Linked DNA regions of Homo sapiens: region 1 is linked to region 2. The links come from fine-mapping of genetic effects on gene expression. A gene starts in region 2. The other region holds a variant in brackets. All regions are shown on one strand. Distances are from middle to middle. Region 1 overlaps RHOA (ras homolog family member A). Region 2 holds the start of USP4 (ubiquitin specific peptidase 4).

Region 1 (4,515 bases), 28 kb before region 2:
CTTTCTTTCCTAGTAGAATGTTATTTATAATTAAACACTTTTATAAGCTACAGAGTTATTTTTGACTTGACATTTTGAATTATGCCACTTGGTTCAGTTCTAGTATCTGTTTTGTTTTTTTGTTTTTTTCCTAATTGAGTCAAGGTCTCACTGCCTAGGCTGCAGTGCAGTGGCACAATCTCTGCTTACTGCAACCTCCGCCTCCCGGGCTCAAGCAGTCCTCCCACCTCAGTCTCCCAAGTAGCTGGGACTACAGGCGTGCACCACCACAGTCAGCTAATTTTTTTTTTTTTTTAAATGGAGTTTCGCTCTTGTTGGCCAGGCTGGAGTGCAGTGGTGCAATCTCAGCTCATTGCAACCTCCACTCATTGCAACCTCCGCCTCCTGGGTTCAAGCGATTCTCCTGCCTCAGCCTCCTGAGTAGCTGGGATTACAGGCATGCTTCACCACGCCCAGCTAATTTTGTATTTTCAGTAGAGATGGGGTTTCTCCACATTTGTCAGGCTAGTCTCGAACTTCCGACTTCAGGTGATCCGCCCGCCTTGGCCTCCCAAAGTGCTGGGATTACAGGCGTGAGCCACCGCACCCAGCCCACACTCAGCTAAGTTTTATTTTATTTATTTTTTTTTTTTTTAGAGATGGAGGCTCGCTTTGTCGCCCATGCTGGAGTGCTGGAGTGCAGTGGCACGATCTTGGCTCACTGCAACCTTTGCCTCTCGAGTTCAAGCAATTCACCTGCCTTAGCCTCTCCAGTAGCTGGGACTACAGGCGCACGCTGCCGTGCCTGGCTAATTTCTTTCGTATTTTAGTAGGGACGGGGTTTCACCATGTTGCCCAGGCTGGTCTCGAACTCCTGAGCTCAGGCAGTCAGCCCGCCTCAGCCTCCCAAAGTGCTAGGATTACAGGCATGAGCCACCGCGCCTGGCCACACTCAGCTAATTTTTAAGGTGTTTTTGTAGAGGTGGGTTCTCAGATTTTCAATTTTGAGAAATTTCAACCTAAAATAATTTAAATATACTCTCATTTGAGCTTGATGCTCATAAAAGTGAATACTCGGCCGGGTGTGGTGGCTCATGCCTGTAATCCCAGCACTTTGGGAGGCCGAGGCAGGCGGATCACGAGGTCAGGAGATCAAGACCATCCTGGCTAACATGGTGAAACCCCGTCTCTACTAAAAGTACGAAAAATTAGCCAAGCGTGGTGGCGGGCGCCTGTAGTCCCAGCTGCTCAGGAGGCTGAGGCAGGAGAATGGCATGAACCCGGGGGCAGAGCTTGCAGTGAGCCAAGATCTTGCCACTGAACTCCAGTCTGAGCAACAGAGTAAGACTCCGTCTCAACAAAAAAAAAAAAAAAAAAAAAAAAAAAAAAAAAGGCCAGGCGCGGTGGGTCACGCCTGCAATCCCAACACTTTGGGAGGCCGAGGCGGACGGATCATGAGGTCAGGAGATCCAGACCATCCTGGCTAACACAGTGAAACCCCGTCTCTACTAAAAATACAAAAAATTAGCCGGGTGTGATGGCGGGCACCTGTAGTCCCAGCTACTTGGGAGGCCAAGGCAGGAGAATGGTGTGAACCCGGGAGACGGAGCTTGCAGGGAGCAGAGATCGCGCCACTGCACTCTAGCCTGGGCGACAGAGCAAGACTACATCTCAAAAAAAAAAAAAAAAAAGAAAAAAGAAAAAATGTAAATACTCCTGTGTTTTACTGTTTTAGACCGTCTGCCATTTCAATGGTCTGCCATTTCAATGTACTATGGTAAGTGTCACTTTTTCTAAAAGTGGGTGGGGGGATTAACCTTGCACTCTTGTGGTTGTTTTTCCCATTACAGGTAGAGTTGGCTTTGTGGGACACAGCTGGGCAGGAAGATTATGATCGCCTGAGGCCCCTCTCCTACCCAGATACCGATGTTATACTGATGTGTTTTTCCATCGACAGCCCTGATAGTTTAGGTGAGTGGCCCTGCACCCTGATATTTGTCACTGCCTGTGTAGCTAGTTGGCATCTGGTTTCTGGGCATCAAGTGGCTGAAAAGCAGACATGAACTTCAGAGAAGCAATCATCGTCAGTGGCCGGAGTCCTGGAGTTTGGGATTGTAGAGCGTGGGCCTTGGGTCCCTTTCAGCCTAGGTCTCCCATGGGTACTGTATTTAAAATGTATCCACCTAGGCAGGGCACGGTGCCTGACACCTATAATCCCTGCGCTTTGGGAGGTCCAGACGGGTGGATCACCTGAGGGTCAGGAGTTCAAGACCAGCCTGGCCAACATGGTGAAACCCCGTCTTTACTAAAAGTACAAAAAAATTAGCCAGGCATGGTGGTGCACGCCTGTAGTCCCAGGTACTTGGGAGGCTGAGGCAGGAGAATCGTTTGAACCTGGTAGGTGGAGATTGCAGTGAGCCGAGATTATGGCACTGCATTCCAGACTGAGCAACAGAGCAAGACTCTATCTCAAAAATAATAAT[T/A]ATTATTATTATTACTAAATAATATTAAATGTTATTTAAAAATCTAACTGCCTTGTAAACTAGATGAATTCCAGATACAAAGATGAGTAAACTAAGGCTGGTGCGGCGGCTGACACCTGTAATCCTAGCACTTTGGGAGGCCGAGGCTGGCAGATCACCTGAGGTCAGGAGTTTGAGACCAGCCTAGGCAACATGGTGAACCCCTTGTCTCTACTAAAATACAAAAATTAGCTGGGTGTGGTGGCGTGCACTTGTAATCCCAGCTATTCCAGGGGCTGAGGCAGGAGAATCACTTGAGCCTGGGAAGCAGAAGTTGCAGTGAGCCAAGATCATGCCACTGTACTGCAGACTCCATCTCCCAAAAAAAAAGATGAGCAAACTAGATGAGTTCCAAATGTAAAGCCATCTCTTTTGGGGAAAGACTTTCTTTTTTTTGGTTGCCCTGTCTTAGCCTTTTTCTGAAGTGTCTTAGCTGATAGAAGCTTGAATGTGATCATTTCATTAGCCTAAACACAGCCACATAATTCAGAAGTCAGTAAGTCAGTATTCTTTTTTTTTTTTTTTTTTTTTTTTGAGAGGGAGTCTTGCTCTGTCTCCCAGGCTGGATTGCAGCAGCTTGATCTCAGCTCACTGCAAGCTCTGCCTCCTGGGTTGATGCCATTCTCCTGCCTCAGCCACCCAAGTAGCTGGGACTACAGGTGGCCACCACCACGCCCGGCTAATTTTTTGTATTTTTTAGTAGAGATGGGATTTCACCACGTTAGCCAGGATGATCTTGATCTCCTGACCTCGTGATCCGCCTGCCTCGGCCTCCCAAAGTGCTGGGATTACAGGCGTGAGCCACTGCGCCTGGCCCAGAAGTCAGTATTCTTTAGAAAAAGACTGAAGAATGCTAACCTGACATTCTGTGAAACCAGGCTTGAAAAAACTTGCTTTAGGTTTGTGCTGAAGATGATGAGGTATCTATTAATAAACTTGTGCTGCAGCCCTCCCTGTCATGACAGGGCAGCAGGTGGGTCAAGGATGTTGTCGTCATTACCACAAACAGCCTTTGAGGGTCTGCTTGTGGCCTCGGGTTGCCTGGATAGTTAGTGTTAGAGTGATTGTGTTGTTATGGTTGTCCCTACCTTAATGATGATAACTGGGGTTGCTCCAAGATATTGAGCCACTTGTTTAAGGTCATGCTGGCCCAAGGAGCTGAGCTAAGATTGAGTCCTCTGTGCAGTATGTCCCAGGACAGAGAAAGAGCACGTATTCCATGCCGTTGGTTCACTTAGATCATTTTCAGCAGTTATGATTGATTGATTGATTTAGAGGCGGGGTCTCGCTCTGTTGCCCAGGCTGGAGTTGAGTGGCACAATCTTGGCTCACTGCAACCTCCGCCTTCCAGGTTCAAGCAAATCTCCTGTCTCAGCCTCCCAAGTAGCTTGGACTACAGGCATACGCCCCCACGCCTGGGTGATTTTTGTATTTTTAGTAGAGACCGGGTTTCTCCGTGTTGGCCAGGCTTCTCTCAAACTTCTGACCTCTGGTGATCCACTCACCTTGGCCTCCCAAAGTGCTGGGATTACAGGTGTGAGCCACCACACCCAGCCTAGTTTTGGTTTTCAAACTAATATGACTTCCTTTTGTGAAGCTGCTGGAAGGCCCTGGAGGCTGGGCAGAGCTTTAGGCCACAGAGAAAATTTGAGCTAGTTGACACTCTCCTATCAGATACACACATAAATAACTTCACCTAGATCCTATTGGAATGAGAAGGACTGTGTGCCTTTGCCCTCGTTATCTAGTGTATAATTCTTGAGGGAAAAAACTGCCTCCAGAGCAAAACATTTTGTCTCTTCAGTCTCACTTTTTTCTTTTTGAGACAGGGTCTCGCTTTCTTGCCCAGTCTTGAGTGCAGTTGCAGATTCAGTTTACTGCTGCCTCGACCTCCTGGGCTCAAACAATCCTCCCATCTCAGTCCCCACCCAGTAGTTGGTACTACAGGCACACACTGCTGCGCTTGGTTAATTTTTATATTTTTTAGGCCGGGCATGGTGGCTCACGCCTGTAA
Region 2 (4,000 bases):
GCCACCACTAACGGCTAATTTTTTTTTTTTTTTTTGTATTTTTAGTAGAGAAGGGGTTTCACCATATTAGCCACGCTGGTCTCGAACTCCTAACCTCGTGATCTGCCCGCCTCGGCCTCCCAAAGTCCTAGGATTACAAACATGAACCACCGCGCCGGACGCCCGGTCTTTTTTTTTTTTTTTTTTTAAGACATTTCGGTCTCCACGTTGGTCAGGCTGGTCTCGAATGCCCGACCTCAGGTGATCCTCCTGCCTCGGCCTCCCAAAGTGCTGGGATTACAGGTGTGAGCCACCGCGCCCGGCCGGTTCACACCCTTTATTTGTATTTATTTTTTTTTTTTTGAGACAGGGTCTCACTTTGCCGTCCAGTCTCAAGTGCAGTGGCGCCATCTCGACTCACTGCAACCTCGACCTCCTGGGCTCAAGGGATCTTCCTACCTCAGCCTCCCAAGTACCTGGGACCACAGACGCGAGCCACTGCCCGGCTATTTTTTGTATTTTTTTGTAGAGACGGGATTTCGCTATGTTGCCGAGGTTGGTCTCTAACTCCTGGGCTGAACCTATCCTTCCGCCTCAGCCTCCCAAAGTGCTGGGACGACAGGCTTGAACCACCGCGCCCGGCCTGGTTCACACACTTTAATGGCACTTACCACATACTGCTAGGCATTGAGGTTATTTCTGTAACATCTCTTCTTTTCTACTAGATTCTATGAGGGCAGGAACTAGGTCTTATTTTTCTCTGAGGACAAGGACTGTTAGACAAGTGTATGGAGACGCATCTAGACCAACTGCCTGACTTCCTCTTTCCTCTGGGTTTACTTCTCCCTCCAAGAGGAGGGTTGTGTGTGTGAGCGGGGCGACTGGAAAACATAGTGTTCAGGACGTTGTATCTTGTTCCAGGAACTAAGTACACGCCTGGGTAACTAATGTGGAGTACCTCTCCTTCCCCTGTTGCTATCGCCCCTCTGTGGCTGCTTGGCAAGTAGCTCAGTATGAAGAGCTGACGGAATTCTGCGGTGGGCCAGGTGGCTCTGGCGTCGACTGTTTAAGGCGACTGTTAATGACTACAACACACCATTGAGTCTTGGTCCCAAGGCGCTGGTGCACATGGTACTTCCCGAAATCCCTGTAGGGCCGCTGGAGCAGGAGCCCCGATCCCACGTTTGGGCAGCTGACTCGCCTAAGGCCTCCAGCTGAAAGCGGAATTGCAGGGGTGAGAATGAGCAGACCTAACTACCGGGCTTCTCGCACCTGGCCTGCATTTATTTAGGACCACGATAACCTCGAAGGCCAGGCTGGGGTGCCCGATGGGTCGTGGGCTTGCTGCCTAACTCCCTGAGATCGGCGGGCTGAACAGAGCTTCGAAGTGTAGCGCCATCCTGAGCAGAGGAAGGGGCGCCCGAAGGCCGCGTAGCGGGCGGCAGGGCGGGAGGAAGTAGCAGCTGCTGCTCCCCGCCCACCCCTCTCGCGTGTGCCTTTCCGCTCCACTGTTCGCCGGTGAGCTAGGTGGCGCGAGAGCGGAGGGGAGAAAAGACAGCGGCTGCAGGAGCCGAAGGCCGCGGCTCGAGGTGGGGCAGGGGCGGGCACGCGAGCGTGCGTGCGTGGGCGCGGTCTATAGCACGCCGCGCGCGGGGCGGATGTCCGGGCCGGCTGGGCCGGGGCCGCGGAGGAGATGGCGGAAGGTGGAGGCTGCCGTGAGCGACCGGATGCGGAGACTCAGAAGTCCGAGCTTGGACCCTTAATGAGGACCACACTCCAACGCGGGGCGCAGTGGTGAGCTCCCGGCTCGCTCTTCCTCTATGCAGAACCAGGGGCCGAGAAAAAGGGGCCTCCTTTTTCTCGGCTAGAGTAGGGGCTGGGCGGGGATGGTATGTAGTGACCCTGGAAGAGTAGCCTGACACCTGCCCCTCAGGAGAATAACTCCAGGATCAGCTCTGGGAAAGCGCAGGCGGGGCCTGAGTGTCGTCTCAGTTCATTTGGAGCCCTAGGGGGCGGGCCCGGCGGGGGCCAGGAGGAGGGATGTGGAGAAGGGGAAGGTTGGTGGGGACCCTAAGGGTGGGGAGAGCCCTTTACCATGAGGACTCGCCGTGTGACCTTGGGCGAAGGTGTCACAGACCTGGATTCCTCACTGTTAAAACCAGGATAGCAATATTTGGCTCACCGACCTCAGTGGGTTGAGGGGAAAATCAGAAGTAGATACTTTGTAACTTGTAAACTGCCAACAGATGTCAAGGTCAGAAGCTGAACAAATGTCTGAGAACCCCGATTATTTTGGTAGCAAGTGTCAAAAATATTTGCGGCAGCAGTGTCTTGGAGTGGGAGAGGAGGATAGCCTAGGTCCTGGAGCTAGATAGAAGATGAAGGGTCCAGAATTTAGAAGACCCAGGCTGAGTTATTAGGCATCTTAATAGATTGTTTAGTAGAGGGGACAATACTTTGTACTACTGGAGAGATTCCTGGGTGGTGTAATTGTGTAGGAGTAGAAAAACTAAGGCTAGACTTTGCATCGAGTATGATTGTTACCCATCTTGTTTGTTTTGTTTTGTTTTGAGATGGAGTTTCACTCTTGTTGCCCAAGCTGGAGTGCAGTGGCGTGATCTTGGCTCACGGCAACCTCCGCCTCCCGGGTTCAAGCGATTCTCCTGCCTCAGCCTCCCGAGTAGCTGGGATTACAGGCTCACGCCACCACACCCAGCTAATTTTTTGTATTTTTAGTAGAGACCGGGTTTCACCATGTTGGGTAGGCTGGTCTCAAACTCTTGACCTTATGATCCACCCGCCTCGGCCTCCCAAAGTGCTGGGATTACAGGTGGGAGCCACCGTGCTCGGCCCGAGTGTTACCTATCTTTAAGAAATCATTGTGGTGATGATCTGCCGAGGAATTGAGCAGGAGAATAGAAAAATTGGGGTTAGGAGGAGTACAGATAACAGCTTATGTATTCACCTTGAGCTAACCAGTTTGTGAAAGGCAGGGTAAACAGAGGTACTTTTTTTGTGTTTTCTTTTCTTTTCTTTTCTTTTTTTTTTTTTTTTTGAGAAGGAATTTCGCTCTTGTTGCCCATGCTGGAGGGCAATGGCGCGATCTCGGGTCACGGCAACCTCCCCCTCCCATGTTCAAGCGATTCTCCTGCCTCAGCCTCCCCAGTAGCTAGGATTACAGGCATGCGCCACCACGGCCGGCTAATTTTTTTTGTATTTTTAGTAGAGACGGGGTTTCTCCATTTTGGTCAGGCTGGTCTCGAATTCCAGATCTCAGGTGATCGCCCGCTGTGGCCTCCCAAAGTGCTGGGATTACAGGCGGAAGCTACTGCGCCCGGCCTAGCAGAGGTACTTTTTAAGTTAACCTCTATAGGGTTCATAAAGAATACTCAGCAGAAGTAGAGGAAGTTTAAGATAGACTAAAATCATACAGTAAAATTGTATGGAAGGTATTGCTCAAGGGATTTGGAAGAAAAATAGCATTTTAGAGATGGATGTGTTTATGGATCCTTGTGACCTCTGGGAAGCTGCCTGACCTCCTCTCACATTTGTTGGTTATAAAATTTTAAGGATGCACCAATATAATTGTTGATGCTTTGTTGCTCCACAGAGATTGTTTTAATTGTAAAACAGCATAGAGATACTTTTTTTTTTTTTTTTTTTTTTTTTTTTTGAGACGAAGTCTCGCTGCATCACCAGGCTGGAGTGCAGTGGCGCGATCTCGGCTCACTGCAATCTCTGCCTCCCGGGTTCAAGCGATTCTCCTGCTTCAGCCTCCCGAGTAGCTGGGATTATAGGCATGCACCACCATGCCCCGCTAATGTTTGTATTTTTAGTAGAGACAGGGTTTCACCATGTTGGCCAGGATGGTCTCGATCTCCTGACCTCGTGATCCACCTGACTCAGCCTCCCAAAGTGCTGGGATTACAGGCGTGAGCCACCGCTCCCGGCCAGCACAGTGATACTTTAAAAATATAAACAGGTCTGGTGCAGTGGCTCATGCCTGTAATCCCAGCACTTT

Evidence for each region. PIP is the estimated chance that this variant, and not a neighbour inherited with it, causes the effect. A credible set is the group of variants that fine-mapping cannot tell apart.
Region 1: its variant is the best candidate, but not a certain one, in a credible set for the expression of USP4 in sigmoid colon (GTEx, PIP 0.56).

Annotation. Positions count from the first base shown.
Region 1 is chr3:49,365,863-49,370,377 of GRCh38, reverse strand. It overlaps RHOA (ras homolog family member A), which reads left to right. Exons shown (of 5, transcript NM_001664.4): 3 at 1,830-1,950. Among named protein-coding and RNA genes, the nearest start is that of GPX1, 9.8 kb to the right of the region's middle. The variant T/A (reference allele first, on the strand shown) is at 2,463.
Region 2 is chr3:49,337,697-49,341,696 of GRCh38, reverse strand. It overlaps USP4 (ubiquitin specific peptidase 4), which reads left to right and starts at 1,644. Exons shown (of 22, transcript NM_003363.4): 1 at 1,644-1,773. The coding sequence starts at 1,673. RefSeq lists enhancers at 1,024-1,083, 1,174-1,343, 974-1,473 and a silencer at 1,514-1,703.